3 separate regions of the Homo sapiens genome follow, and all the other regions are linked to region 2. Evidence: fine-mapped expression QTL. A gene starts in region 2. Each other region holds a variant in brackets. All regions are shown on one strand. Distances are between the middles of the regions. Region 1 overlaps PADI6 (peptidyl arginine deiminase 6). Region 2 holds the start of RCC2 (regulator of chromosome condensation 2). Region 3 has its middle 24 kb from the start of RCC2.

Evidence for each region. PIP is the estimated chance that this variant, and not a neighbour inherited with it, causes the effect.
Region 1: its variant is the best candidate, but not a certain one, in a credible set for the expression of RCC2 in whole blood (TOPMed, PIP 0.89).
Region 3: its variant is the best candidate, but not a certain one, in a credible set for the expression of RCC2 in whole blood (INTERVAL, PIP 0.58).

The regions. Positions count from the first base shown.
Region 1 is chr1:17,380,456-17,388,609 of GRCh38, reverse strand. PADI6 (peptidyl arginine deiminase 6) reads right to left here. Exons shown (of 16, transcript NM_207421.4): 5 at 7,446-7,563; 6 at 6,518-6,643; 7 at 51-229. Among named protein-coding and RNA genes, the nearest start is that of PADI6, 12 kb to the right of the region's middle. RefSeq lists an enhancer at 6,145-7,344. The variant G/C (reference allele first, on the strand shown) is at 4,474.
Region 2 is chr1:17,435,950-17,444,126 of GRCh38, reverse strand. It overlaps RCC2 (regulator of chromosome condensation 2), which reads left to right and starts at 4,450. Exons shown (of 13, transcript NM_018715.4): 1 at 4,450-4,582; 2 at 5,605-5,897. The coding sequence starts at 5,613. It overlaps LOC124903862 (a long non-coding RNA gene), which reads left to right and starts at 2,584. Exons shown (of 2, transcript XR_007065508.1): 1 at 2,584-2,669; 2 at 3,074-3,991. RefSeq lists silencers at 4,211-4,350, 5,670-5,769.
Region 3 is chr1:17,459,520-17,467,696 of GRCh38, reverse strand. No RefSeq gene overlaps it. Among named protein-coding and RNA genes, the nearest start is that of RCC2, 24 kb to the right of the region's middle. RefSeq lists an enhancer at 6,773-7,580. The variant C/T (reference allele first, on the strand shown) is at 3,734.

The sequences.
Region 1 (8,154 bases), 56 kb after region 2:
CCCCCACCGGAGCATCCTAGTCTGAGGACCCATCTATTATGGGGACATACCGGGTCTTGAGACTCCTCCACCAGGGACACAGAGTAGGAGATGAGGCCTGAGAATTCGGCAGATGGGAATGCTATAGCTTCAACGTAGAAAGTCTCCTTCAAGTGGTTCCCGAGGAGGGCCAAGGTATAGGCGTGCTGGTCGGGCCCCAGCACCAACTCAAAGGTACTGGAGTTGTCTTCTAGGAGAGAAAGAAGGGATGGACCAGCCACTGAAGTAACCTGGTGCCGGTCACATTTGATGGTCAAGGTACCAGCTCATTCCTCATATCAGATGCAAGGCTGTGAGTTCCAGGAGGGCTGGAGCTGAAATGGCTCAGCCATCCCCGTTTCTAGCATTCAGGTCTTGGTAGACAACCAGATGTTCATACACAAGCAATGGCCAGTTATTCACCAGTATTCCTTGAAGACCTATTACATGCCAGGAGTTGGAGCTCAGGTGATGATGCCTTCAAGGCTCCTGACTGGTGTGAAGCCTCAGGGTAGGTGGTTCTACATTTTGGCCCATGAATCCAACTCCTGCGATAATATCAGAGTCCTAAAGGTGAGAAACTGTCCCAGGCTGGGCTCAGCAGCCTCATCTGAAAAAAATCACTTACTGATGCTAGAAAGGTCAGTGAGAACCATTTATTGGATGGATTATGCCTCCATCAAGTTTTCTGAAGAAACCAAGTGTTCTTATGATTATACATGTTAAGCCTGTCTCCTAGTTTTAGGTCATTAAATACAAAACCATGCACAGAAGAGATCAGAAGGAAGTTGACCACACGTGGTGGTTGTCCGTTTGCTAATTAGATCCTAAAGGTGTTTTTGAGAGGGAGTCTTGCTCTGTCGCCCAGGCTGGAGTGTAGTGGCGTGATCTCAGCTCACTGTAAGCTTTGCCTCCTGGATTCTGGCCATTCTGCCTCAGCTTCCTGAGTAGCTGGAACTGCAGGCACCTACCACCACACGCCTGGCTAATTTTTTGTATTTTTAGTAGAGACGGGATTTCACCGTCTCGTTAGACAGGATGGTCTTGATCTCCTGACCTCGTGATCTGCCTACCTCGGACCTCCCAAAGTGCTGGGATTACAGGTGTGAGCTACCACGCCTGGCCCCCCCCCCTCCTTTTCTTTTTTGAGGTGGAGTCCTGCTCTGTTGAGCAGGCTAGAGTGTAGCGGCACTATCTCGGCTCACTTCAACCTCCATCTCCTGGGTTCAAGCAATTCTTGTACCTCAGCTTCCTGAGTAGCTAGGACTATAGGTGTGCACCACCATGCCCGGCTAGTTTTTTGTATTTTTAGTAGAGATGGGGTTTTACCACATTGCCCAGGCCAGTCTCCAACTCCTGAGCTCAGGCAATCCATCTGCCTCAGCCTCCCAAAGTGCTAGGATTACAGTCGTGAGCCACTGTGCCCAGCCCAAGTCCATTCATTTTCTAGGTCAGAAATGACCCTGACTTCTCCCACCTGGGTCACTCGAACTTCCTCTTTCCTGGCCTGTCCTCTATCTGTGCCCGATGTGGCAGCTGTAGGCCTGATGGCTGTTCCTGCTCAAGATTCCAGGTGACTTATTTCAGGGGATCCTAAGCTAGATTTACCTTGGCCACTAGAACCCCAAGAGATCCAGGAACTGTAGCATCCTCAGACCTTCTGCACGGCACTGCCAGCTGCCTCCATCTCCAGCTCCTCCAACGTGCCAGCAGATGGCTGCAGCTGCGGCCGTGGCTGCCCCTGGTTAGGCACTGCCCTGGGTCCTCGGCCTCTTGCTCTGGGTTAGAGCCCCAGCAGCCCTCCCGATGGACTCTGCAGTTCTGCAGCAGCCCCTCCTTGGAGGCCCTGGGGATGCTGGTTACAGGCCCAGCCTCAGTCCTGCTGCTGGCTGTGAGGGAACTGGGCCCACCGGGACCACTCCTGTGCTAGTTCCTGCTTCTCATCTACCTAGATGCTTCACCAGCCCTGAGCCAGGCCTCATGGGGCAAGACCAGACAAGGCAGTCTTCCCCCAGGAACCCCTGCAACTTCCCAGTGCAGACACAGCCCTCTTGACCTGCGATAGCATCAGCAGGCCCACGGCATGCAGCCCAAGAGGTGCCACACACCTAGGGCCTGCTCCTGTTCTGGGGACCTGGGCTCCCTGTGGCCATTCCACCCAAGGGTGATTCACCACCAGGCAGTGAGGGCGAGAGGGTCACAGTCTGTTTGCCACAATCCCCTACTGGCTGGCTCTCCTGTGGTTGACCTTCTGGGGGCCCCTCTCACAGATAGTTTGTTGTGAAGCATAGCTAACATTTCACTGTGGGCTATCTTTGCTAGGAGCTGTGGTAGGTGTTTCAGGCTCATGGGCTCACATCCTCAGGACCCTTTGAAGCAGGCATTTGTTGTCCCCATTAAACAGAAGCATGGGGGAGGCCAGAAGCCCTGCGACCCAAGTACACACAATAGCTGCCTCTACCTGGAAGGCCCTCCCTGCCCTCAGTCCTCACAGAGCTGCCCAGGAGGCCTTAGCTACCTCAAACTCTCCCTACCCACCCTGGGGGCATATTAAAGGGCTCCCTCCAGCCTCTGCTGGGTCCTCGACTGTCTGTCCATCTGTCGTAGCAGGCTCTGAGAGCAGGTAACATGGTTTATTCTTCCAGAGCTGGATCCTCAGGGCACAGAGCAAATACTGATGATTTGAGCTGAGCTTTTTCCTACCTGCCATGTACTGCTGGACTTACAGGAAGGTGGGTACCCTTCTTGGTTCTTCACTGGCACTTCTCGGCCATTTCTCTATTCCTCAAGAATCCCAGTTCCTGTGAAGTGCTGGCCATCAGATAATGCCAGCTACCCCTTTCTTTTGGGGACGACGATGTCATCCTCTCCATCCTTCGTGGATTGTTCTAGCATACTTGCCCTCCACTGCTGTTGTGTCACTGGTATCTGACAATAGACTAGAACATCTAGACATTTTGATCTCTCTTCGACGACCTTATTTCAATGAACCTGGGTTCTATACCACCTTAGACATCCATTACAATGATCATAACCCAGACTAGATGCCACCTCCAAGGCAGACAATGCCTTCCGATCTGTTTCGCTCACCTATGCTCCCACCCCAGCGAGTCCCCAACCTCAGTCCCAGATCCTCCTACCGATCCCCACCCTCCATCCTCACACTTCCCTTTGACCCTTCTCAGAGCCCAAAAACCCATCACTACATCCTCTCTTATACACACTGTCCACTCCCACACCTTTTTCTAGTTTGCTTTCCTGGAAAACCTCCATTCTGGTCACACCAGGTCTTTAAAGCTCACTCTTGCACCTGAGATGCTGGAGAAAACCATCACACCAAAAGGCCTCATTTCAGGCTACGACCAGACCTCAGAGCAAGCCACCAACACTACTCAAACACTATCGTCTCATTCCTGTCCACAGACTCACCTGTATTCCATAGTCCTAAAGGTGATCCTCCTGCCTTGGCCTCCCAAAGTGCTGGGATTACAGGTGTGAGCCACCACGCCCAGCCTGTTTAGAACCTTGTCTTCTGGCTTTCTATTCCTCTGCAAACTTCTCAGATCTTCCTCTAGGATCCATTTCCCCACCCCTGTTGGATCAGTTCCATCTATACATCTGCCCGTGTACTACCAGCTTCAGACACGCTCGACTGCGTGCTGGCCCCTGTAATTACCACCACACATCTCCCTTTACGGAGAGAGAATTCTTTCTGTGGCCTAGATTTACTGTGCCTCCCCATTTCAACCTGGCTTTTCACTGTTATTATCAGGGTCACTGATGACTGCCATTCTGAGGATTGTGACTTTACTATGGGCTTGGGCATCTTAGTCTATCCCACAGCATTTGCCAGGGTTGGCCACTGCCTTACTTTGCCCAGACTGGAGTGCAGTGGTGCAATGTCGGCTCACTGCAGCCTCTGCCTCCCGGGTTCACATGATCCTCCCGCCTCAGTCTCCTGAGTAGCTAGGATTACAAGCTAAAGCCACCACACCTAGCTAATTTTGGTATTTTTAGCAGATGGTTTTAACCATGTTGGCCAGGCTGGTCTCAAACTCCTGACCTCAAAAGTGATCCACCAGTCTTGGTCTACTCAAAGTGCTGGGATTAAGGCATGAACCACCACGCCTGGCCAGGCTTCTTTATAAAAATAATCTTATCTCAGAGTCAAGGTCTCACTGTGTTGCCAAGGCTGGTCTTGAACTCCTGTGCCCAAGTAAGCCTCCTGCCTTGGCCTCCCAAAGTGCTGGGATTACAGGTGTGAGCCAACACACCCAGCCTGTTTCTAGAACCCTGTATTCTGGCTTTCTATTCCTCTGTAAACTTTTCAGACTCTTTTGCTGTATCTTTTTGTGGTTCAAGCTTTAGCATGTTTCAGAGTCACCTGGAAGGCTTGTTAAAACATAACATGCTGTGTTGCCCTACCCTGATTTTTAAGTTTTTTTTTTTGAGACA[G/C]AGTCCCACTCTGTCACCTAGGCTGGAGTGCAGTGGTGCAACGTCGGCTCACTGCAGCCTCTGCCTCCCAGGTTCACTCCTGCCTTGGTCTCCTGAGTAGTTGGGATTATAGGTATATGCCACAAAGCCCAGCTAGCTTTTGTATTTTTTAGTAGAGATGTGGTTTTGCCATGTTGGCCGGGCTGGTCTCGAACTCCTGACCTCAGGTGATCCGCCTGCCTTGGCCTCCCGAAGTGTTGGGATTATAGGCATAAGCCCCGTGCTCAGCCCCTAGATTGTTGAATAAGTTTTTTTAAAAAAATTATTTTTTTGAGTCTCACTCAGGCTGGAGTACAGTGGCATGATCTCGGCTCACTGCAACCTCTGCCTTTCGGGTTCAAGCAATTCTCCTGCCTCAGCCTCCTGAGTAGCTGGCGGGCATGCCCGCCACCATGCCAATTTTTGTATTTTTAGTAGAGACAGGGTTTCGCCATGTTGGCCAGGCTGTTCTCGAACTCCTGACCTCAGGTGATCCATCTGCCTCAGCCTCCCAAAATGTTGGGATTAGAGGCATGAGCCACCACGCCCAGCCTGAATAAGCTTTTTCAATAAAGAAACCGGTAGTTCGCTATGATCCACATGATGAAGTATGGCATCCTTAGCAAGCTACATGAACCGGCGGACTCCAAGGCCTGCCTGGCCTAATCCACCTACTTCAGCACTGGTAGCCTCCCAGGGCCAGAGTAGCCCTTGTGGCCTGAACCAGACCTAGACCCCTGGGTTTCTTCGGCTCACTCTAGCTCATGTGTAAGATGGCCACGTCCAAGCTGGGCTACCTTTTCTGGCTAATCCCAGGCTACTTTGAAATCCAGCTGAGATCTATGGTCTGCAGAAGAGATGGAGTAGGAGACTGAGCCAAGGCCCCAGAGTGTAGACCAGGAAGTGGCAGGGGCACACTCTCCAATGCTGGCAACAAAGATGGTGCCCTCTGAGAAGAGGCACAGTATAGACCACAGAGCTCCCTGCGTTGCGTAGCTGAAGCTAAGCATGGTTTACAAGACAAGGTGGCAGGTTGGGCCGGGTGCAGTAGCTCACACCTGTAATCCCAGCACTTTGGGAAGCCAAGGCAGGAGGATTGTTTGCATCCGGGAGTTTGAAACCAGTCTGGGCAAAGTGAGACCCCGTCTCTACAAGAAAAGCAAATTAGCCAGTTGTGGCACACACCTGTCATACCAGCTCCTTGGGAGTGTGAGGTAGGAGGACTGCTTGAGTCCAGGAAGCTGAGTCTAGTCTACAGTGAGCTGTGATCACACTACTGCACTCCAGCCTGGGTGACAGAGCTAGACCTTGACTCAAAGGGGAAAAACAAAACAAAACCCAAAGAAAGCATGCTGGCATGTCCGTCCAGAAGCAGAGCTAGCTCTCAATGAGAGATTTAGAGGTACGCCAAGTCCTGAGCCAGTTCAGGGAAGTCAAAAGATGTGCAAGGCTGTTTTGCTGGAGTTGGGCATGTGTACCTCCTAACCAGCCCTCCATCTATAGAATAGAGTATGCTACCTGCCTCCCAGGAGAGGAGGGCTGAAGATGGGTGGTGGATGGCGTGGTGGCTGGGATGCAGGTGCTACCGTGGCTGCCGCTCTAGAGGTTTTGGCCTCAGATTTCTGGAAATTTAACATAGTGGATCATTGGTTTAGAGTGAAGATGGATTCTCCTGAGAGGAGTCACTGGGAGATGTGATCTACTCTGTGTAAGGCAATAGCTACTGTTTCAGTGGATATGTCTCTCTTCTCTTCTAGCCTGCAGGGAAGGCACAGCTACCCCCATTTTACAAGTGGAGAAAGTGGCTTAGAGGTGCAATAACTCACCCATGTGTACAGATTTAGCCTATGGGGAAGGTGGCAGCCAGAGAATCCTGGAAACACAAGTACAGCCACAACAGCCTCTCATCTGCAGCTCTAGGTCTCCAGCAGGCTTCTGCTGGGGACCTTGCTGGGAGGAGGTGTGGGCACAACTTGCCTGGCACGTCGAGAGCAGGCAAAGCTGGAGCTGGCACAAGAACACTCACTTTGGGGCCAGTAGACTCTCGCCTTCTTCGACTCTTCCTTGGAGGTATGGAGGACTAGCCGATATTTCTTTAAGATACAGCTGGGGCCTTGGACATTCAGAGTCATCTGGGACAGATTCGTTATTTCTGGGCAAAAGACAAAGCAAAGGTTAAGGAATGTCTGGAGGCCAGCACTCTGGGGGTGGAGGGAAGAGCAGTAGAGAGGGGCCGGGAGTTTGAACAGAGCACCAAGGACCCCCTGCCTTTTGCTAGGGCCCAGGCCCGAAGAATTACCATTTCACTGCTTGTTCTAGGTGGCTACAGGCAAGCTGCAAACCTCAGGGCCTCCTTTTGAGGGAGGATGGGATTTATCCCATGGTCCCCCACAAACAGAACAGGGCCTACCTCGATCAGTTCAGTGAAGGTTCACCTTGTTTCCAGTCTTGTTTCCAGTCTCAGTAGGAAACAAGACATTCCATTCTACTGCTAAGACCCAGAACCCTGGTCCCAACCGCAAGTCAGGATCCAAGGCGAATTTTACCCAAGACAGTCCAAGGTTCCTGGCCCAGACTATGAGAGGCTTTTTAGAAAGCAGCGCATATACCCCTATTGTCTTCATTTAGTCTTGTCAACCAACTGATATAGTTGGGAGGCCAACTGCATCATCCCCATTTTACAAATAGGGAAACAAGATCAGGGAAGTTAGTGTGCTCAAGTTCACAGCTAGGAAACAAGTAACCACCCATGCTCTTTGCATGGGGCTATGTGACTTCTCTTACCCAATTATACATCTACAACTCAGGACAAAAGGTTTGATCAGCCCAGGCATGGGGACTGGGGAAGAGGGTGTCGGGGGTGGGGTGGAGAAAATTAGTCTGGAATCCATTTGCTGAGAAGCAGGGCAGCAAAGAGACCAAGAAGGAAAGGCAGAGACAGTCTGAGGTCCTACCCTCTGAAAAGATCACTTTCTTGGTTTTCTTGTCCTCAAGTTGCTGGCCCACATCAGCAGGGTTGCAATTCACAAGCAGGATGGCACCCCAACCGCTGGGACCCCAGATCCATTTTTTCTGCAAATGAGATGGGAACATTGGCTCAGGAAGGAGCCAAATAAATCTTCTGTTTCTCGGATGCACCTCATAGCAGAGGGGCCCAGCCAAGCCTTTCTCCAGGGTACAGGGACCCATGGAACAGGACTGGTGAGGTCAAGAATCTGTAGGCACAGGAAGGTCATGTCAGGTAAGGAGGCTAAGAGGAAGGGAAAGAAGCTAGGTTCGGGGTTACCAGTTACTTACCTCATATTTCAGAGTCAGAGAATCAGGGACCGAGGCAAATTGGAAAAGAGACGTGCCACCTGGCAGCAGCGGCTAATCCTCTCATCTAGGAGACTCCACAACCAGGGTAGGACATGAGCCTAGAGTTGCCAGACATTCTGGTTTTTTTTTTAGTGAGCTAGAAATTTAATCAGTTCTGATCCCAGTACTTCGGGAGGCCGAGGCAGGTGGACCACTGGAGATCAGGATTTCGAGACCATCCTGGCTAACACAGTGAAACCTCGTCTCTACTAAAAATACAAAAAAAACTAGCCAGGCATGGTGGCAGGCACCTAGAGTCCCAGCTACTCGGCAGGCTGAGGCAGGAGAATGGCGTGAACCTGGGAG
Region 2 (8,177 bases):
GGGAGTTTCACCATGTTGGCCAGGCTGGTTTCGAACTCCTGACCTCAAGTGATCTGCCCGCCTCGGCCTCCCAAAGTGCTGGGATTACAGGCGTGAGCCACTGCGCCTGGCCGCGGCTGGCTAATTTTTTTCTAATTTTTGTAGAGATGGGGTCTCACCATGTTGTCCAGGCTGGTCTCCAACTCCTGGGCTCAAGCAATCGTCCTGCCTCAGCCTCCCAAAGTGCTGGGATTACAGGCGTGTACCACCACGCCTGGCCAGATTCTGTGTTTCTGACAATCCTCCTACTGATGCAGATGCCTGTACACTTCCTGGCTATCCTATCTGCCAGCTGTGTGGCCTCAGGAGGCCTCAGCATCTCCCTGGGCTTCAGTTCTTCCGCTGGATATTATTTAGATGAACAAACATATATTGACAGCTTACTACACGCCGGGCTGCTCTGGGTGCTTGCTAGAAAAACAAAGATGAAGAAGCCACAAGCCAAGCCCAGGCATGCCTCACAGACAGAGAACTTAAAGGTCCAACTACAATATTTAAAGACTCTGCGTTTGAAAATTTCATGACTCATTGGCAGAAATAGGACGACCGGATCTGCATCTCCCAGAAAACATCTCTCCAAACACTATGACAGGGATTCCCCGCTGACTACTGTCCTCAGAATCAGGGAATACGAAATCCAGAAGTAACCTCAAGAGAAATTTAGCCCAAACTCTATCTTGCCATTTTACAGAGAGGAGAAACTAGAGAACAGATGCAGAAAGAGTGGGGTCTGGAGGAAATTACTGGTTTTCCAGCTATGCTTTCGAAGGCTGTGATGTCCAACAGGAATAACATATGAGCTACAAAAAACTTAATATGTAATATTAAATTTTGTGGTAGTCACATTGAAAAGAGTAAAAAGAAGCCAGGCACAGTGACACATGCCTATAATCCTAGCACTGTGGGAGGCCAAGGCAAAAGGATTGCTTGAGGTCAGGAGTTTGAGACCAGCCTGGGGAACATAGTGAGACCTTGTCTCCACAAAAAAATTTTAAAAATTAGCTGGGCGTGGAGGTGCACGTCTACAGTCTCAGCTACTAGGGTGGCTGAGGCAGGAGAACTGTTTGACCCCAGGAGGTCGAGGCTGTAGTGAGCCAAGATGGCGCCACTACAGTCCAGCCTAGGTGACAGAGTGAGACCCAGTTTCCAAAAAAAAAAAAAGAGAAAGAATCGTTTCCATTGGTTAGCGCATCACTCCCAGGATCACTGGTTTCATTTTTATAGACACTGGATCAGAAAATTAATCTTTCAAGTACAGGTGTAGCTTTCTGTAGCCAAGTTGAATAGAATTACACTTCTGAGGCTGGGCACAGTGGCTCACGCCTGTAATCCTAGCACTTTGGGAGGCGAAGGCGGGCAAATCACGAGGTCAGAAGTTCAAGACCAGCCTGGCCAACATGGTGAAACCCCGTCTCTACTAAAAATACAAAATTAGCTAGGCGTGGTGGTATGCGCCTGTAATCCCAGCTACTTGGGAGGCTGAGGCAGGAGACTGCTTGAACCTGGGAGGTGGAGGTTGCCACCACTGCACTCCAGCCCGGGTGACAGTGCGAGACCCCACCTCAAAAGAAAAAAAAAAATGAATTATACTTCTGAGGCTGTGCACAGTGGCTCACCCCTATAATCCCGCAACTTTGGGAGGCTGAGGTGGGAGGACCACTCGAGACCAGCCTGGGCAACAGAGAGAGACCTTGTCTCTACAAAACATTAAAAAAGAAAAAAAATTTAGCCAAGTGTAGCTGTCCATGCCTGTGGTCTCAGCTACTTGGGAGGCTGAAGCGAGAGGATCGCTTGAGCAAGGAAGGTAGAGGCTGCAGTAAGCTGGGATCATACCATCACCCTTCAGCCTGGGTGCTGGAGGAGCAAGATTCTATCTAAAAAAATAAAAAAAAAAAAAAAAAAAAGAAAGAAAAAATCACACCTCACCCCTGGAAAAGAACTTAAGCGTAGCTGAATCTAACTTGCAATATGATTTTGCTGAAGATGAGGTTAAAGAGTGACGGCAGGCTGGCACTTGCAGCCACATTTCCAAAATTCTGGGTGTAAAATGCTCAGCACAGTGCCAGACACCTGTGCCTCAAAGTGTCAGAGAAATCTCAGCCACCTTCTTTCCCTTCCCCTCTCCCGGTTTTGCACCAAACCATCCTGTCCCTGGAGAATTTGCTCAATTAGAAGCGAGGTGAAATTCCAAGCACAGTTTGAAGGAGGAAGTGTCATTTTCAGCTTGCCTGTAGGTGCACCTCACTATGTAACATTTGTTACATAAGTGGCAGCATGACACGCCTAACTGATGAATGTCTGTTGCACACCCAATTCCAGCCGGGAGAGTCACGCAGGCTTTCCCTGGGAGAATAGTGGTGTGGAATTGAGGCATGGAGTTGCAAAAATTACTTTTGTCTTCTGACAAGTAGGGCCAGTTCCAGGGTGTTATACCCAAAGTGCTTTTCTACTGCAGCATAACCTCAAGAAAAACCAGTTTCAGGAGCACCACACCTAGGATCAGATGATGCAATATGATATTAGCGTCTCATTGCATCAGTGTGTCTGAGGCATGAGTCTTTTAAGCTGGCAAAAAGCATTATAAAGGGGCAGGAGAAAAAAGGAAAAGACTTGCAGACTGAAATCTAAAGGTACTGTCAGTGGTGTTCCTAATTGGCCACACAGGGTGTTTAGAGGATAAACACCCAGCCACCCGCCTCGGCTGACAAGCATCAGCATGCCATTTCCTGAAGGGGACTTGATGGCATATTTAGGCGAAATTCTTTTCTGGTTGGTTCTACTTATGCTTTATATCAAAGCGTCAAAGTTTAACCTCTAAAAAATCTTTTTAAATGCAGGTCTATTAAGAATAGGCTTTCAAAGGGTGCTTCTATTCCATCTTGACTTTTCTGAAAATCTCTGAAACGTACCAGTTGATTTCTCATTTCCAAAGTTCTTTTACATAAGCACTCTCAGCTCTCTTGACACACAGACTTTTGACTTTGATCAAATACCTTAGATTTGGGCCTCTTGGTTTCTCTGTCTTCCTTTACAGGACACTTGATGCTTCCCAGTCCTGTTTCTTGCACTAACAATGAATGAATGAATCACAAAAATCCTAGAACTTTATGCGTTTTCAAGAAGTTGCCTGAAGAAGGAACTTCCTTGTGCGGTACGCCTCAGGAAAAAAGAAGCAGGAGAAAAGCTTTGAGAGGAGAGCAAGTGACGGTGAGATCGTAATGGAAGTGGGGTGGAGAGGTGGAGGGTGGAGACCGGTAGGAAGCAAGCAAGGCTTTTTTCACCCGTCCCAGGACACGCGAACGAGATCAAGCCTCACTGCGGTTCACTAGGGTCTATGCAGGCCCTCGCACCCCTGCCTACCTCCTCAGAACCCAGCCTCTTGGCTCTTCTCACCCCAGCCCCACCAGACAGCTTCCCTCCCAGGAGGTGTCTCTCAAGATCTCGAAATGTGGAGCGTCCCGTTCACTCCACCTGGCCTGGAATACTTTTCCTGCCCCCTTTCATCGGGTCTTATTCATCCTTTAAGTTGTTCAGCATAACTTTCCACCTGAATGCCTTCCCTGGCCCTGGACTAGGATAAATCCCCTCGCCATAATGTTCCTACACAGGCATCACTTTGTAAAGCTTACCACTGTTGTAATTACTTGTTTACTGATCTGTCTTTCCGTTAGGCTGTGCGTTCCACTGGGGTGGAAACCTTGTTCACTGGCTCTGCAGCCCCGGGCACTGTGGGTCTTGCATGTACCGGGGGCTCAGTAAATATTTGGCAAAAAATGAAAAAGTTCCCCTCAAAGCCAGCTTCCAGTGCCTCCACGGCCCTCAAATTAATTATGAATTAATTCACTAATACAGCAAACCTTTATGTGATTCTTCCGTGTCACAGCACCTTGTTACATACTGAGGACACATCCACAGGCAAATAAAACTCAGCTTCTCTCTGCACAGGAAAAAATTATTCAAATTGTATTCATCTTTCATTCCAATCACTCAATTAGGGCACGTCCCTTGTTGGCTGCTGCGTGAGCGAAGTAACTATTTTCCAGCGAGTGTCCTCATGTGACCTGTCTAGACGTGCCCAGGAAAAACAATCCAACATCCTCCTAAGCCGCAAAGAAGTCCCTGACGCGCAGGCCGCACTGCGTGGAAGGCCCAAAGCGCGCTCGCGGGCCCGCGAAAGGCGCAGGAGCAGCGGAGCCGAGGCGGGCGGCGAGGCGCGCGGCGCGCGGCGCAGGCTCGGGTGGGCAGGGCAGGGCCAGGCCGGGCGGGGCGGGGGCGCCGGCAACGGGTCCGCCGGCCGGCAGGGGGCGCGCGCGCCCCGCGCCCCGCGCCTCCCGCCCCGCCGCGCGCTCGCTTGCCGCGCGGCCGCACATGTGTTTCTGTTTTGTGTTGTAGCATTTGTTCTGGAAGCTCGTATTTACATTTTAAGTGTATCTGGTGAGTGGGCTGGAGCCCTCGTCTGGGCCGGAAAAAAAAAAGCCCTCCGATCCGTCTTTTAGTTGCTTCTCTTCCTTTTTTCTCTCCGGTTTCTCATCACTCCAACCAGGTAGGGTCTGAAAATCGACAGTGATCAGTTTGTGGGGTCTGGGAAAGTTTTTTTTTTTTTCCTTTTTTTAAAGAGAAAAGGTTAAAAAAAAACCTGGGGGAGGGGGGCTGGGTGATTGAAGGAATAAAAAGAGGAAGGAAGGCGGATCCACGTGGTTTAATCGGAGACAGACAGAGATCCCATTGTTCAAAATCAATTAAAAAAAAAAAAAAAAGCAGACAGGGGAGAGCGCAGGGACGCCGGGGAGCTGGCGGCGGCCCTGGACACTTTGCAGTCGAATCGGAGACCGGCCGGGCCGCACGGCCGGCAAGGGGGCTGGGAGAGAGTTGGGCACCATTAAAGTTTTTATTTTTCGTGTCTGTGCGAGCAGGTGTTTGGGGCTGGGGTCCAGCTTTCTTCGGGCTCTTCCCCCGTCGCCGGGGGCAGTCCGCCGTAGGGATTCGGCTAACTAGAGCCCGAGGTCGGCACCCCTGAGCTGGGGCCGAACGGGGGTCCAGGGCTGATGCGGGGTGGGGGAGAGCGTTGCATTAAATGCCATGAGTGGGTTTGGGGGGAGACTGCGGAGACAAAAGCAGCAGGTGGGGTAGCCGGGGAGCAGGGGCTCCCTTACCACCCAGGTGCCAAGGGGGAATCCTGGAAGTGTCCCGAAGCCTTCTTTAATGAAAATCTAGGGGACTGGAGGCTGGTTTTACTTTCCCTTTACTTTTGGGGGGCGAGGTTGCAACTGTGATGCTTTGTGGGCAAACCTAACTTACGGATAGGCCGGGGGTCTCAATTCTCCCTCCAGGGGATTGCCTCTGGGGCTCCCGGCTGCCCTGCGGGATTCCCCGAAGGAGCCGCGCCGGGGCCAGGGAGGGGCGCGATTTCCTCTCCCAACTCGCCCCCTCTCCGCCCACCCTGCGGCCGCCACTTTGGGGAGGGCAGAGGAGGAAGTGGAGGCCGGGTGGCTCGTCTCCGCTCCCCTCCCCCCGCGCAGTTTATAACCCGTCCATTGTGCGCCGCTGCCCCGTGTCTCCCTCCAGCCGCGACCATGCCCAGGAAGAAGGCGGCGGCGGCGGCCTGGGAGGAGCCGAGCTCGGGCAACGGCACTGCCCGCGCCGGGCCCAGGAAACGCGGCGGCCCGGCGGGCAGGAAGCGCGAGCGGCCCGAGCGCTGCAGTAGCAGCAGCGGCGGCGGCAGCAGCGGCGACGAGGACGGCCTGGAGCTCGACGGGGCCCCCGGCGGGGGCAAGCGCGCGGCGCGGCCGGCGACAGCAGGCAAGGCGGGCGGCGCGGCCGTGGTCATCACCGAACCCGAGCACACCAAGGAGCGCGTCGTGAGTGAGGGTCAGGGTAGACGGGTGGGCGCAGGGCCGGGGCCGGCGGGCTCAGCGACGCGGCACGGCGCGCGTTCCAGCCGGGGGCCGCCTCGCGTCACGCTCCCTCCCGGCGGCCGGGCCGGCGCAGGCCGCGGGCTGAATCATTGCCTCCGCCTCCGCGCAACAAAAGGGCTCGGTACGGGGCGCGCGGCCCGCGGCCTACCCGACCCCGGGCACCGCGCGGGCGGTTGGCGGTTGGGGCGCGCGCCCGGGCCCGCGGCGGGGGAGGGGCGGCCGAAGCCCGCACGAGGGGGTCATGGCCCCGCCCCCACAGCTCCCTCTGCGCCCCTCCCCCCCCGCCCCGGGAAAGGGGACCTCGGTAAGTTCGCCCGGCCTGGAAGAGGGGGCGGCCAGCGGGCCCCACACGTCCGTGGCCGCCGCTGCGCCCGGGCGCCGCGGGGAGGGGGCGGCCGGCGCTCTGCGGGGAGCGGCCGTTTGCGCCGGGGCTTTGAGGTTCCCGCCGCCTCGGCTCCGGCGCCCGGGGGGGGCGGGGCCTGACGGCCGCCGCGCATGCTCCGCAGAGCCCTCCCCCGAGGTCGGGGAAGCCCCCCGGCTGAGCGGTGCTCGGGCTTTGTTTGCCGCCGGTGGTCCGAAGCTGCAGGATGCTCGCGAGGGCTCTGTTGTAGCCCCCCCAAGTGAAGAAGCATCTCCTAGGGTCCTGGGCGGGCTTCTGTTTTCTCAAATCTTAATTAAGGTCGTGGCTGACTCAAGTTAACGTTCCCGAAAAAGCCTGCAGAGCCGGAGATCTGAACCCGGCATCTGCCGCCACAGCATCTCCCCACCCCCACAGAACTTTCTTTAAGTTTGGTGTGGTGTGGGATATGTTTTTCAGAAGAGGGTCTAAGTTTTCACCAGATTCTCAGATAACCCCCAGAGAGCAAGAACTTCCACCTGGGGTGTAGAGCCTGACACCCGGAGAGGTTTTTTTCCTTCCATAAGTGCCCATCTCCTAAGGGTGTTTAAGGGTTAACAGCAGAGTGCTTTCCTCCAGAGAAGCGCAGGCAGTGTCTAATAACACATTTTCTACGTCCGTTTTATAGATAGGGAAACTGGGGCACAGAATTCGAGGGCCTTGTCCAAAGTCATGGATGGAACTGGATCTCCAAATGCTGTAACTCCTGATGTCCCTGCAAATTGCACATGGGAATATGCTTTGTAAAAGTGCCTTCTGGGTGAAAGGGTTAACATGTTAGGCAGTGGAGGAGAGCCCGTCAAAAGCTGTCAAAAGGTCTTGCCCGGGGTCTTGGATCAGGCTAGACTAGACAATGGCCAAAGTATTGAGAAACTGGAACACAGGAACTGTTTTCCTTTGACGTCTAGTCTGCTGTGCCAGACTCCAGACATTTGCCCTCCGAACACAGTATGTTAGGATGAAACTAAAAAGAAAGGCCAGGTGAGCTTCCGCGTCTCCTGTATCCTATTTTGAGTGAGTTTCCAAAAGCAAGATTGTGTTTAGACATCCAAGACTGCAGTTATCAGCTGTACAGCTCCAGACTGTTGGAACGCTGAATTTTGCCATCAGAGCAAAAGATCCTTACCCCATGCTGAGATTGACCCAAGGAGGTAGAGACAGGGAGTGTGTGAGGGACACTGGCTCTCCCTGGCCCACCTCTGTCTCCAGCTGTGCTGCTTGAAGCTGCTTTGTCAATGGAAATGGCACATTTGTTAGTCTTTTTTTTTTGAGGCAGAGTCTCCCTCTATGGCCAGGCTGGAGTGCAGTGGCACGATCTCAGCTCACTGCAACCTCCGCCTCTCAGGTTCAAGTGATTTTTGTGTGCTGATCAGCCTCTCGAGCAGCTGGGATTACAAGTGTGTTCCACCACACCCGAATAATTTTTGTACTTTTTGTAGAGGCTGGGTTTTACCATGTTGGCCAGGCTGGTCTCAAACTGCTGGCCTCAAGTGATCTGCCTGCCTCAGCCTCCTTCCAAAGTGCTGGGATGACAGGCGCGAGCCCTGTGTTGGGTTGCATGTTTGTAAGTCTTAATGTGAGTAAACAGCAGTCCATTGCAGCTTTTAAGTTCCTGTTTATACACATAAATACGTTATTATTTTACATATGTGTATAAGCAGGACTCTAAAAGCTACATCTTCCTTTCTCTATCCACTTAAAACCAACAGGGGCCCATGATGCCCATCCTTTGGGCTGTCGGTGCTGTTCTAGAATCAGAGCACCTGGGAGGCTGAGGGTTCAGCATATGATGCCCCTTTATGCCTCATGGAAAGTGCACACCCTAC
Region 3 (8,177 bases), 24 kb before region 2:
TCTCACAGGTTGGAGGAGCTGGTTATGGAATTTACAAAGGGACACATGAATGGGTTCTTGTGTGCCAGGCAGGCTGCCTGAGAAGTGCATTACAGATATTACTTAATACTTAAAGCCAGGCATGGTGGCTGATGCCTGTAGTCTCATCAGTTTGGGAGGCTGAGGCGGGTGGATTGCTTGAGCTCAGGAGTTCGAGACTAGCCTGGGCAACATGAAGAAACCCCGTCTCTATTCTTGAAAAATTATTATTATTATTTACTATTATTATTATTATTATTATTTGAGATGGAGTCTCACTCTATTGCCCAGGCTGGAGTGCAGTGGCGGGATCTCAGCTCAGTGCAACCTCCACCTCCCGGGTTCAAGCAATTATCCTGCCTCAGCCTCCCAAGTAGCTGGGATTACAGGTGTGCACCACCACACCCAGCTAATTTTTGTATTTTTAGTAGAGACGGGATTTCACCATGTTGGCCAGGCTGATCTCGATCTTGCGTCTTCAGGTGATCCACCTGCCTCTGCCTCCCAAAGTGTTAGGATTACAGGCGTGAGCCACTGCACCTGGCAAAAATTTAAAAATAAAAAAAAAAATTATTTAATACTTAGAAGAAGACTGAGGTCAAGAATTTGTTATTCCCATTTTACAGAAGGGGAAAATAAGGCACAGAAGTTCAGTAGCTCAATGTAGCTCAGAAATGGGAGCCAGGGCCAGGTGCAGTGGCCCATGCCTATAATCCCAGCACTTTGGGAGGCCAAGGCAGGCAGATCATCTAAGGTCAGAAGTTCGAGACCAGCCTGGCCAACATGGCGAAACTCCATCTCTACTTAAAAATACAACAATTAGCTGGGCGTGGTGGTGCACACCTGTAGTCCCAGCTGCTTGGGAGGCTGAGGCATGAGAATTGCCTGAACCTTGGAGGCAGAGGTTGCAGTAAGTGGAGATCATGACACTGCACTCCAGGCTAAGTGACAGAGCAAGACTCTGTCCCAAAGAAAAAAAAAAAAAAGACTGGACTGGGCCCCTGAGTCAGGAACAGTGTGGGGAAGATTCCAGCAAGGCAGGGGATGACATCTTGAAGACGGGACAGCGCTCCCTACCCCTGTACCTGAGCAAATCCACTTTCCCTCCCGAATCCCACCCACCTGTTCTGGGCCCCGCCTCTCAGATTCCTCTGAAGGTTGACAGATACAATAGCCCAAAACATGCCACTTTGCAATGAGGATCCTGTTGAGCTGAAAGCAACTGAGAAGAAGCAGATAGAAGAAAAGCTCTCTCTGCCAGGGTCGGTGGCTCCCACCTGTAATCCCAGCACTTTGGGAGACCAAGGCGGGTGGATCACCTGAGGTCAGGAGTTTGAGACCAGCCTGACCAACATGGAGTAATCCCGTCTCTACTAAAAATACAAAATTAGCCGGGCGTGGTGGCACGTGCCTGTAATCCCAGCTACTCGAGAGGCTGAGGTAGGAGAATCGCTTGAACCCTGGAGGAGAAGGTTGCAGTGAGCCGAGATAGCACCATTGCACTCCAGCGTGGGCAACAAGAGCAAAACTCATCTCAAAAAAAAAAAAAAAAAGAAAGAAAGAAAGAAAAAGAAAGAAAAGCAGGCCAGGCGCAGTGGCTCATGATGTATGAGAGGCTTGGCCAGGGACAGTATAAGAACAGGCACAGGCCAGGTGTGGTGGCTCACGCCTGTAATCCCAGCACTTTGGGAGGCCGAGGCGGGTGGATCAGGAAGTCAGGAGTTAGAGACCCGCCTGGCCAACATGGTGAAAACCCATCTCTACTAAAAATACAAATATGTGCCGGGCGTGGTGGCACAGGTCTGTAATCCCAGCTACTCGGGAGGCTGAGGCAGGCGAACTGCTTGAACCCGAGAGGTGGAGGTTGCAGTGAGCTGAGATTGCACCATTGCACTCCAGCCTGGGCAACAAGAGCAAGATTCCGTCTCAAAAAAAAAAAAAAAAAAAAGAAGAAGAAAAGCTCTCTGCCCTTCCCGTAGCTGCCAAAAAGCAAGACATAAATTTATAAATGTGCCCACCCCGCAAAAAAAACCACCAGGAAGGACAAAAGTTGATCCCAGAGACACCTCCAGACCCTAAACTTCCTGGGGCCCAGAGGAGTAGACTTAACCGACTCCACTCCTAGCTCCCATCTTCCATTCATCCCCCATATATTGACCCTCTCACGATTTGCTGCCCTAGTGCTTTCCCTTCGTCTTTTCACTTCACTAAAATGTATTCTTCTTTTGTTAAGTTGCTACATAAACCCCAGTTCTAACCACCCTCTTGAGTCACTTACCTCTGAGTACTCCCATGTACAAGTGTCATAATCAACTTCTGTTTATTTTTCTCTTGCCAATCTGTCTTTTGTTAGTCTAATGAATAGGGTCCCAGCCAAAGAATCTAAGATGGGTACACGCCCTACCCACCTTCCTTCTCTCTTCCTCAAGATTCCGAGCGCTCACTGCTATTTAATCATCTCTACCTGTGCCTGTTCTCTTTTTTTTTTTTTTTTGAGATGGAGTTTTCTCTTGTTGCCCATTTTTGAGTGCAGTGTTGTGATCTCAGCTCACTGCAACCTCCACCTCCCAGGTTCAAGCGATTCTCCTGCCTCAGCCTCCCAAGTAGCTGGGATTACAGGTGCACACCACCATCCCCAGCTAATTTTTGTATTTTTAGTAGAGACAGGGTTTCACCATGTTGGCCAAGCTGGTCTTGAACTCCTGACCTCGGGTGATCCACCCACCTTGGCTTCCCAAAGTGCTGGGATGACAGGCGTGAGCCACCGCACCTGGCCTGTGCCTGTTCTTATACTGTCCCTGGCCAAGCCTCTCATACTCCACCATAGTTTCCTCATCTGTGAAACGGGGATTTCAGGAGTACCCACTTCCTGGGCACATATGTGAGGCATGAGGACTAAACTCTGATTTTTTGTTTTTGTTTTTTTTGAGACGTTGTCTGGCTCTGTCGCCCAGGCTGGAGTGCAGTGGCACAATCTCAGCTCACTGCAAGCTCCACCTCCTGGGTTCACACCATTCTCCTGCTTCAGCCTCCCGAGTAGCTGGGATTACAGGTGCCCGCCACCACGCCCGGCTAATTTTTTGTATTTTTAGTAGAGACGGGGTTTCACCATGTTAGCCAGGATGGTCTCGATCTCCTGACCTCGTGATCTGCTTGCCTCGGCCTCCCAAAGTGCTGGGATTACAGGCGTGAGCCACCGCGCCCGGCCTAAACTCTGATTTTTATCTTGCCCAAATTCCTATCTAAGGGGTCTGGGGAGCCATGCCCTACAAATCATAAATTCTCTTCAGATGGGTTTTATTTAACCCTAGGTATTGTGACTGACTTTCCAACCTGACTGACTCTGGCATAACATTATGAGACAAGGAAGAACATCAAAATATTTTACCCCAAAACATGTTTCTTTGTCATATTTTGAAATGTCCCTACAAAGCTGTTCCTTGCTAGGGAAAATTTGCATCTGTAAAGAATCTCTATTAACATAGCTAGATCTTTTTCTTCCAGAACCTCACAATCCTATAGAGATTAACTAAGATCTGAATAGGAAACATTTGCCATTTATTGTCTCTAAAAGCAGCCACTATAAGACTTCAAAAGAACTTTGGTGTCCACAATATTTATCTTTTTTTTTTTTTTTCCTGAGATGGAGGTTTGCTCTTGCTGCCCAGGCTGGAGTGCAATGGCATCATCTCGGCTCACCGCAACCTCCACCTCC[C/T]GAGTTCAAGCGATTCTCCTGCCTCAGCCTCCCGAGTAGCTGGGATTACAGGCATGTAACACCACACCCGGCTAATTTTGTATTTTTATAGAGACAGGGTTTCTCCATGTTGGCCAGGCTGGTCTCAAACTCCTGACCTCAGGTGATCTGCCTGCCTTGGCCTCCCAAAGTGCTGGGATTGGGCCACTGTGCCTGGGCTCACAGTATTTATCTTATCCTGAACATTCCCTTTCTATGAATCCCAGGTCTTTGGACAAATTCAACCAATTGTCAACCAGAAAGTGTTTAAATTCACCTATAGCCTGGAAGCAACCCCGCCCTGCTTCGAGTTGTCCTAACTTTCTAGACCAAGCCAATGTAGTTCTTAAGTGTATTTAATTGGTGTCTCATGTCTCTCAAAAATGTATAAAAACAACTTGCACTCCAGCCACCTTGGGCACACATCTCAGGACCTCCTGAGGGCTTTTGTCACGGGCCATGGTCACTCATATTTGGCTCAGAATAAATCTCTTCAAATATTTTACAGGGTCTGACTCTTTGTTGGCATGCATATATAAAGAAGTTTGTCGGGCGCTGTGGCTCACGCCTGTAATCCCAGCACTTTGAAAGGCCGAGGTGGGTAGATCACCTGAGGTCAGGAGTTTGAGACCAGCCTGGCCAACATGGTGAAACCCTATCTCTACTAAGAATACAAAAATTAGCCAGGTGTGGTGCCACGTACCCGTAATCCCAGCTACTCGGAGGCTGAGAGAGGAGACTGGCTTGAACCCAGGAGGCAGAGGTTGCCAGTGAGCCTAGATCACACCACTGTACTCCAGCCTGGGTGACAGAATGAAACTCCATCTCAAAACAAACAAACAAACAAAGTTAAAGTTAAGATATGCAAAAGGGGGCCTGGCATGGGGCTGACATCTGTATTCCTAGCACTTTGGGAAGCCAAGGTGCGAGAATTGCTTGAGCCCAGGAGTTCAAGACCAACCTGGGCAACAAGGTGAAACCTCGTCTCTACAAAAATGTGTAAAAATTAGGTGTGGTGGCGTGTGCCTGTGATTCCAACTACTGAGCCAGGAGGCCAGGAGGTCAAGGCTGCAGTAAGCCATGATTGCAACACTGTACTCCAGCCTGGGTGACAGAAGGAGACGCTGTCTCAAAAGAAAAATCACAACAAACCCTTCTTCCTTTCATGCGTTCAATAAAGATATGCTGAGTGTACTTATCTACAGGGTGGTTTGTGTTAGAAATTTTATTTATTTATTTATTTATTTAGAGCCTCACTCTGTAGCCCAGGCTGGAGTGCAGTGGTGCAATCTCGGCTCATTGCAACCTCTGCCTTCTGGGTTCAAGTGATTCTCCCACCTTAGCCTCCTGGGTAGTTGGAGTTGTAGGCGCCCGCTACCACGCCTGGCTAATTTTTTTTTTTTTTTTGAGACAGAGTGTCGCTCTGTTGCCCAGGCTAGAGTGCAGTGGCGCGATCTTGGCTCACTGCAACCTCCGCCTCCCGGGTTCACGCCATTCTCCTGCCTCAGCCTCCCGAGTAGCTGGGACTACAGGCACCCGCCACCACACCCAGCTAATTTTTGGTATTTTTAGTAGAGTCAGGGTTTCACCGTGTTAGCCAGGATGGTCTCGATCTCCTGACCTCGTGATCCGCCCACCTCGGCCTCCCAAAGTGCTGTGATTACAGGCGTGAGCCACTGCCCCCGGCCCACGCCTGGCTAATTTTTGTATTTTTAGTAGAGATGGGCTCTCACCATGTTGGCCAGACTGCTCTCGAACTCGTGACCTCAAGTGATCTGCTGCCTCGGCCTCCCAAAGTGCTGGAATTAAAAGCATGAACCACCGCACCTGGACAGGTGTTAGGAATTTTAAATGCAACACTGATGTCAGGACCTGAGAGGGTCCTGCTGTGCACTGCTTTAGACAGGTAGGAAGCACCACCTGCTCTTTGGGTGTGCAATTTGCATCAAGAGTCTTAAAAATAGTCATGTCCGTGGCCGAGCGTAGTGGCTCACACCTGTAATCCCACCACTTTGGGAGGCCGAGGTGGGCTGATCACGAGGTCAGGAGTTCGAGACCAGCCTGGCCAATATGGTGAAACCCCATCTCTACCAAAGATACAAAAAATTAGCCGAGCGTGGTGGTGTGCGCCTGTAATCCCAGCTACTCCGGAGGCTGAGGCAGGAGAATCGCTTGAACTTGGGAGGTGGAGGTTGCAGTGAGCCGAGATGGTGCCACTGAACTCCAGGCTGGGCGACAGGGCAAGACGCCATCTTAAAATAAATAAATAAATAAAATTTAAAAAGTCACGCCCTTTACCCCAGAAATTCTACTTTGGGGAATCTAGCCTGAAAAAAAAAATACTAACTACTGAAAAGTCCTGTGATTTGTTTAGTCATCGATTCAGACTTTTCTTTCTTTCATTTTTTTTTTTTTTTTGAGATGGAGTCTCACTCTGTCGCCCAGGCTGGAGTGCAGTGGCACGATCTTGGCTTGCTGCAAGCTCCATCTCCCAGGCTCACGCCATTCTCCTGCCTCAGCCTCCGGGGTAGCTGGGACTACAGGCGCCCGCCACCATGCCTGGAGAATTTTTTGTATTTTTAGTGGAGACGGGGTTTCACCGTGTTAGCCAGGATGGTCTCAATCTCCCGACCTCGTGATCCACCCGCCTCAGCCTCCCAAAGTGCTCGGATTACAGGCATGAGCCACTGCGCCTGGCCTTCTTTCTCTTTCTTTCTTTCTTTTTTTTTTTTTTTTTTTTGAGATGGAGTCTCACTCTGTTGTCACCCAGGCTGGAGTGCAGTGGCGCGATCTCGGCTCACTGCAATCTCCACCTCCAGGGTTCAAGCGACTCTCCTGCCTCAGCTTCCTGAGTAGCTGGGATTATAGGCACCTGCCACCACGCCCAGCTAATTTTTGTATTTTTAGTAGAGACGGGGTTTCACCATGCTGACCAGGCTGGTCTGGAACTCCCGACCTCAGGCGATCCGGCGTGAGCCACCGCGCCCCGCCCAGAAATGGTTTTTAACACACACATGAAATGGTTTGGAAAGGAGCCTTTCTCTAATGCAAGGTGTGGCAAGGATTCACGGCCAGGTTGAATGAGGTCTGTATTTCAGGTTGAGGTTTCTGCTTTGAGGCACTCCCGAGGACTTGAAGGTTTTTCTTTTTTCTCCGAACAGAGTTGCTTGGCTGAAGAGCTCCGATGTCCCCTCCCTAGCGTACATGCCTGTCACCTGCCACCCTGGAGGAGCCCTGGGAAGCCAGCATCTTGCATGTGGGGATTTTGCCTGAAGCATCCTCCTTGGCCCCTGGCATGGCCAGGCTGGCATCTGGAGAGTCCGGGCTGCCTAGCTGAGGGTCATGCCAGGAAAAGCAGGTTTGAACTTGGTGGATGATCAGAGGCTCCTCCTCCCACTCACTATCACGCCACTGCCTGCACATCCTTCAGATGCCAGGCGCCGGAGCACCCTGCACTGAGCTGGGCAGGAGGAAGGCGGTGGCTCTGAGGAATCCAATTGGGATGCAGAGAAGGAGGCAACTCCGGAACCCACCCTCTGGATGGCGGAGGACTCCAGGGAGTGAATCACACCCAGAGAACTTGGGTTTCACTGGGTCCTTAGAGGAAGATGTGACACAGCGAAGGGAAGGGCATAGGCTCTGGGATTCCACAAGCCTGGGTTGAATCCAGCTCTGCCGCTTTCCCGTGTGTCACTTCTGGGAACTTAGGTCATCTCTCTGAGCACGTATAAAATAGCAATGGTAAAAACAGGCCGGGCAGAGTGGCTCACACCTATCAGCCCAGCACTTTGGGAGGCCGAGGCGGGTGGATCACCTGAGGTCAGGAGTTCAAGACCAGCCTGGTCAACATGGTGAAACCCCATCTCTACTAAAAATACAAAAAGTAGCTGGGCGTGGTGGCGCACACCTGTGGTCCCAGCTACTGGGGAGGCTGAGGCAGGAGAATCTCTTGAACCTGGGAGGTGGAGGTTGCAGTGAGCTGAGATCGCACCATTGCACTCCAGCCTGGGCGACAGAGCGAGACTGTCTCGGAAAAATAAAAATTAGCCAGGCATGGTGACCCACGCCTGTAATCCCAGCAACTTGGGAGGCTGAGGCAGGAGAATAGTGTGAACCCGGGAGGCAGAGGTTGCCGTGAGCCGAGATTACGCCATTGCACTCCAGCCTCCAGCCTGGGAGACAAGAGTGAAACTCCACCTCAAAAAAAAAAAAAAAAGCTATGATAACAATAATAATACCTGCCCCAAGGTATTATACCCATTACCCAGACTTGGCTGTTATGAAGATTTCATGACATTGTAATTTATGAAGCATGTGATAGGGAATCAAAACTTTTTTTTTTCTTTCTGAGATGGAGTCTTGCTCAGTTGCCCAGGCTAGAGTGCAGCGGCGTGATCTCAGCTCACTGCAATCTCTTCCTCTCGGA